2 separate regions of the Homo sapiens genome follow, and region 2 is linked to region 1. The links come from fine-mapping of genetic effects on gene expression. A gene starts in region 1. The other region holds a variant in brackets. All regions are shown on one strand. Distances are from middle to middle. Region 1 holds the start of JADE2 (jade family PHD finger 2). Region 2 has its middle 9.9 kb from the start of LINC01843.

The links.
Region 2: its variant is fine-mapped to the expression of JADE2 in cerebellar hemisphere (GTEx, PIP 0.95).

The regions. Positions count from the first base shown.
Region 1 is chr5:134,524,154-134,527,054 of GRCh38, forward strand. It overlaps JADE2 (jade family PHD finger 2), which reads left to right and starts at 1,517. Exons shown (of 12, transcript NM_001388185.1): 1 at 1,517-1,858. LOC124901070 (a long non-coding RNA gene) reads right to left here and starts at 1,449. Exons shown (of 3, transcript XR_007058942.1): 1 at 1,313-1,449; 2 at 753-930. RefSeq lists silencers at 287-606, 1,187-1,236, 1,257-1,476, 1,607-1,686, 1,717-1,976 and 1 more.
Region 2 is chr5:134,495,233-134,498,133 of GRCh38, forward strand. No RefSeq gene overlaps it. Among named protein-coding and RNA genes, the nearest start is that of LINC01843, 9.9 kb to the right of the region's middle. The variant T/A (reference allele first, on the strand shown) is at 1,153.

The DNA of each region.
Region 1 (2,901 bases):
GGCCAGACCCACCCCCTCCCCAGCTAGAGGCATTCCGAGGAGGTTGGAGCTTGACCCCCGATTCCTCCCCAACCAGGAGGCCAGTCCTTCTCCTTCCTCGAGAGAAGGTGAGCTCGGCGGGCGCAGCGGGTTGGGTGGGTGTGGCCCGCGGCTCCGGGAACAGACCCAAGGCCCCGCCACCGCCGGCTAGCAGCCCGACAGCCCGCCCGCCTGGCGAGCGCAGGCTCTTCTTCCAGAAACTGCGAGGATCCGAGCGTACTGTTTGTGCACCACAAGGTCAAGTCGGGAAGTGGAGCCGGAGGAGGAGGGGCGAGGAGGCGAAGGGTGGGGAGAGGGGCGCCCCGCTTCCTCGCCATGTGCCAGCCTTTGGAAGTTACCCCTCGGTTTTTAACCCTTTCGGGGTAATGGGAAGGAAGAGCAAGGAGGAAGGGGTCGCCCCGGGGCAAAATCCTGCTGGGGCCAGGATGTGCAACCACCCACCCACCCGCTCATCACTGCCTTCTCCACCCCCCGGAAATGCGGGGCAGCGCTAGGCGCCAGGAGGCACCCGGGAGGGGGGAGGGGGCGACGAGCCCAATGGGGACCCTCTCTACGGACCGCCCCTCTTTTCTTGAGGTCGCCTACAATTTCAAGTTCCCCCGCCCGGAATGTTAGTTTTCCATTTGGAGTGGGTGCGGGGAGGAGGGCCGCGCCCCCTCCCCAAGACTCGCGTTCGCCCCTCCACTCCCCTCCTGCCAGCACTTTCTGCTCACTTCTGGTGCTGCAAAACGCCACGCAATTTATTCGATTCGCATTTTAAAACCAGCGATTCAGAAGCAGGGCCTAGGGCGAGGGTCTTCCAGCGCTGGAGCCCCGGGGGGCGGGGTGCTCAGTGCAAACCTCGTTCCCTCCGCGAGTGTCGCCTCCAGGCTGTTATTTGCAAAGAAACGTCTTTTTGACGCAGGGAGAAATGGCAAATTTTAAGTACGTCATTAATATGGCGCCAAAAGATTTTTTTAAGTATAAGCTCGCTTTTTTTTTTTTTTAAGGTTGCGGGGGGCGCCGCCCGGGTCTGGGGCGCGTAGGGGGCGGGGTGTGAGCAGAAAGTGTGAGTGAAAGAGTGGAGGGGCGGGGTATGTGTGTGAGTGTGTGAAGTGTGAGCAGACCTGATGGGACTTGCACGGGCGCAGCCGCCGCTCGGGCCCGGCCCTGGGGACAGGGCGGGCTAGGGGCGCCCCAGAGTCCATGGGGAGTCCGGGCCCAGGGTGCCAGCAGGCGTGGTGGTGGGGCTGCGAGGGAGGGCACCCTTCCCCCACGGGGCCCGCAACGCTACCTGGACTCCCCGCCGGAGCCAAACAACTGGGCGGGGGGTTGGGGGGGCGGCGACGGGGGTGTCGGGAGCGGAGATCCGAGTGAATAAGAAAAAAGTGGCTACTCCCCCTCCCTCGCTCCTCCTGCCCGCCCCCACCCCACCCCCACCCCAACACATTTTTTTTTTCTAAAGAGATCACAAGGAAGTCTTGGTTTAAAAAGAAACAGAAACATACACAGGGGGTTGGTGAATGGTGCCGACCGCGGCCATCGCAGTTGGAGGCTATTTTTTGGGGGGGGTGAGTAGCGTCCATGGAGTTACTTTGCGCCCACTCCTAGCGGCACCGGCTTAGGTCCTGCGGGCCGACCGTCCCCGGCGGGGGGCGTGGGGCCTGGGACGCCGCGGGCCCGGCCGCCTCCCTCGCCGCGACCCCGGATGGATGCGCGCCCCCCGCCCTCCCGCGCCGGCCCCAGGAGCTCCCGGCTTCGGGAGCATCCTTCCCGCGCCGGTCCCTGCAGCGGCGCGTAGCCGAGGGCAGCGCCCGTCAGGGGGGCACCGCGGAGCAAGGTAAGATCCAGCCCCCGGCGGATGGGCCCTGCGCATCTCCACGACGTTATTTGGCGTTTTTGCAACAGATCTGCCAGCGCTCTTCGCTCCCTCGCTCTCTCTTGCTCGCTCGCTCCCTCTCTCTCCTGCTGGCTGCCTGTTCTAGGAAGCCAGCGCGGAGAGGGGGGGGATGCACAGCACAGGGGAGAGAGATTGCGCATGTTGGTCAGTCGTGTTTTAAAGAGTACAGTGCGGGGAGGCTGAGAGGGGCGCATGCAACAACAACTTTTGGAAGGGTGAGCTTGGCGACCTTCTTTATTAATGACTGCGGCAAAGCGCCCCCGGGCCGGCGAGGGGGCGCGGGCGGGCGGGGGCGCGCCAGGGCTGCAACTTCCCCGCGGGCTCCGGCCGGGCGTAGGGGCTGCGGCGGGAGATGGGTACGGTGGGGAGGTCGAGCGGCCCGGGCGGGGGCTCCGAGAACCTGGAGCTATCTGCCCTCCTGTCTCCCCGAGTTTCATTTTGTTGATACGCAGCACGTCCGGGCGCCGAACCGGGCTGAGCCGGTGCACATGACCTCGCGCTGGGCTCACGTGCAGCCGGTCCGGTCCCAGACACCTTCCGGGGGCCACCGCCTCCGCCCTGTCGCCCCCTCTCCCGGCCCGGTGCACGCGGGCGCTGCACGCGGGGGCAGCATGCTCGGCTCCTGGGGTTGGAGGCTCTGCACAAATTAGACAGTTTTTTTGGAGGGGCGGGGGACACCCTTTCCAGGTGAGTGTGGAGGGTGCGGAGCCTCGGCGCCAGGGGTGAGGACTGGGGTCGGGGGCAGCCTCCACCTCCGGGGCCGCGCGGTAGTCCAGCTGGGGAGAGGCGCTGGGAGAGTGGAAATGTACCGGCGGCGGCCGGAGCGGCGGGTGCGCGCCCGCGGGGCGACGGCAGGGGGCGTGGCCCTTGTTTACCTTCTCCCAACTCTGCCGGTTCGCGTCCCGCTTCAGGGACGGATCCGCAGTCCCCAGCCCTCTGCCTAGGGCCCTGCACCATGGGTGGTACCAGGAAGATGCCGGCTT
Region 2 (2,901 bases), 29 kb before region 1:
TCTCTGGTCCAGTAGTTCTTCAGAGCCCCAGGGTAAGGCAAGTCCCCCGCTATCTTCCCACTATACAAAAGAGAAGACGGAGGGTCAACTGACCAATGGCCAGGGCTATTCAGCAGCAATCTAGAGACCAGGTGTCTGGATGAAGGAACTCTGGTACCATTCCCCAACCTCACCAAAGCTCAGGAATAAGCCCATGGAAGCCAGTCTGGGGAGGTTCAGCCTGCAAACAACCTGATCATATGGCTGGGGCAATGGTTGATGGGGATATCTAGCCAAGTACACTTGTTGGCTATGTGGAGCTGAAGAAACTAACCTGGGTCTATTATGAAATATTTCCTGGGTAAGCACAGGCCCAGAAAAAAAGAAATAAATAACTATTTCCTGGCATCATGGTAATACTCAAGCTGAGAGCCCCCACCCATTCTTGGCCCAGGACTCCTCAAAGACAGTCTCCAGGGAGACCAGTCCCTCACAACAATGATCCAGAACCCAAGGGGGCCATGGGTACTGGTTGAACTTCATTGCTCGCACCGGTGAATAGCAAACTAACCATGATTTTTTTTTTTTTTTTTCTTGAGACAGAGTCTCGCTCTGTCGCCCAGACTGGAGTGCCGTGGTACCATCTCGGCTCACTGCAAGCTCCGTCTTCCGGGTTCACACCATTCTCCTGCCTCAGCCTCCCGAGTAGCTGGGACTACAGGCACCTGCCACCACGCCTGGCTAATTTTTTGTATTTTTAGTAGAGATGGGGTTTCGCCGTGTTAGCCAGGATGGTCTTGATCTCCTGACCTTGTGATCCACCCGCCTCGGCCTCCCAAAGTCCTGGGATTACAGGCGTGAGCCACCGCGCCCGGCCCCATGATTCTTGCCCTTAATGTCCAGTCCTTCAAACTGATGGAAATAATTACCCAAACCTTAAGGGAGCCACTCTCTTTCCCAAGGAAAATACAGAGGCGAGTTTCTACTAGAGACGCAATCAGCTCCATCCCTTCTAGGGGCTGAAGACCTAGGCCAGGGAGACTGACATGAGGTCCCATGAATTAGAAGCATCTCAGAAAGGGACCAGATGGGGATTTTCCCTGCCTCTCTCTGAAAACAGCCTGCCAATCCCCCAGCAGTTCTGAGCTAAGTCAGTTACATAGGTGGAAGGAA[T/A]TTGGCACAAGTAGAGAGGTCTGTTCAGTCGCAGGGCGGGCTGGGTTATGTTGTTGTTGTTTTCTCTGTGCCTATGCTTACCCAAGCACTGGTTATATTTACAGTACCATGTGATAACGTTAGCATCATATTGGAGCCTCACTGTTCTCATCCATTATTAGAAAAATAGGCTTCCCGACCAGGCGAGGTGGCTCATGCCTGGAATCCCAGCACTTTGGGAGGCCTAGGCGGGCAGATCGCTTGAATCCAGGAGTTCAAGACCAGCCTGGGAAATATGGCGAAACCCCGTCTCTACAAAAAAATTAGCCAGGTGTGGTGGCGCACACCTGTAATCCCAGCTACTTGGGAGGCTGAGACAGCAGAATTGCTTGAACCCAGGAGGCGGAGGTTGCAGTGAGCCAAGATCATGCCGTTGCACTCCAGCCTGGGTGACAAAGTGAGACTTCATCTCAAAAAAAAAAAGAAAAAGAAAAAAAAGAAAAATAGGCTTTCTGGCCAGGTAAGGTGGCTCATGCCTGTAATCCCAGTACCTTAGGAGGCTAAGGCTGGCTTGAGTCCCGGAGTTCAAGAGCAACTTGACCAGTCCTAACTATTTGGGAGGCTGAGGCAAGAAGATCAGTTGAGCCCAGAAGGCAGAGGCTGCAGTGAGCCGAGATTTCGCCACTGCACCCCAGCCTGGGCTATAGAGTGAGACCCTGTCTCAACAAACAAAAACAAAAACAAAAAAAAAAAAGAGAGAGAGAAAAACTGGCTTCCTAGGATAGTCCCAGCTTCAAATATCCTGCTTAGCTGTCAGACTCCATGTTCTGATTTGGGTTGTGAAATTGCGGGCCCCACTGAGGACAGTGTTGCCTTTCGGGCAAAGGACCTGGTATTGCATGTGCTCTGCAGGCCCCACACACTCTCAATAAGCCAGAGCTCAGCAGAGTTGATGTGCAGATTAAGAATAGGGCTCAGAAAGGACGGGCGTGGTGGCTCACGCCTGTAATCCGATCACCTGAGGTCAGGAGTTCCATACCAGCCTCGCCAACATGGTGAAACCCCATCTCTACTAAAAATACAAAAATTAGCCGGGTGTGGTGGTGCACGCCTGTAATCCCAGCTACTTGGGAGGCTGGGGCAGGAGAATCACTTTGAACCTGGGAGGCGGAGGTTGCAGTGAGCCAAGATTGTGCCACTGCACTCCAGCCTGGGCAACAGAGTGAGACTCCGTCTCAAAAAAAAAAAAAAAAAGAATAGGGTTCAGAAGAGGCTCCATGGGCAGCATTTCTGGACCTCTTTTAGAGTCGACATGGCAAGTATTTGCAGCCTGAGAAATAGGTTGAGATGTTGCCTTTCACCACCAATATAAGTAGTTCTAAAAACATCACCTGAAGTTTCAGCCTGTGCTGTTAAAAAAAATTAACCCCCGGTAAAATAACCTGAAAACTGTTCAGCAGTAGCCTCTAAAGTTAAACATAGGCATACCGTATGGCCTAACAACTCCATTCTTAAATACATATTCTCAGCAGAAAGGCATACATATGTGTCCCAAAGACATGCACAATTTGTAATAGTCAAAGCTGGAAACAACCCAAATTTCTATCAACAGTGGAATGAATAAATTGTGATATAGTCACAAAATATAGCTCTGAGACTGAGAAGAGTATTTTATGCTCAACAACATAGATAAATCTCATTGGGCAAGAGAAGCCAGACATAAAAATAGTATATACTATCTGATTCCATTGACATAAAGTTCACAAATAG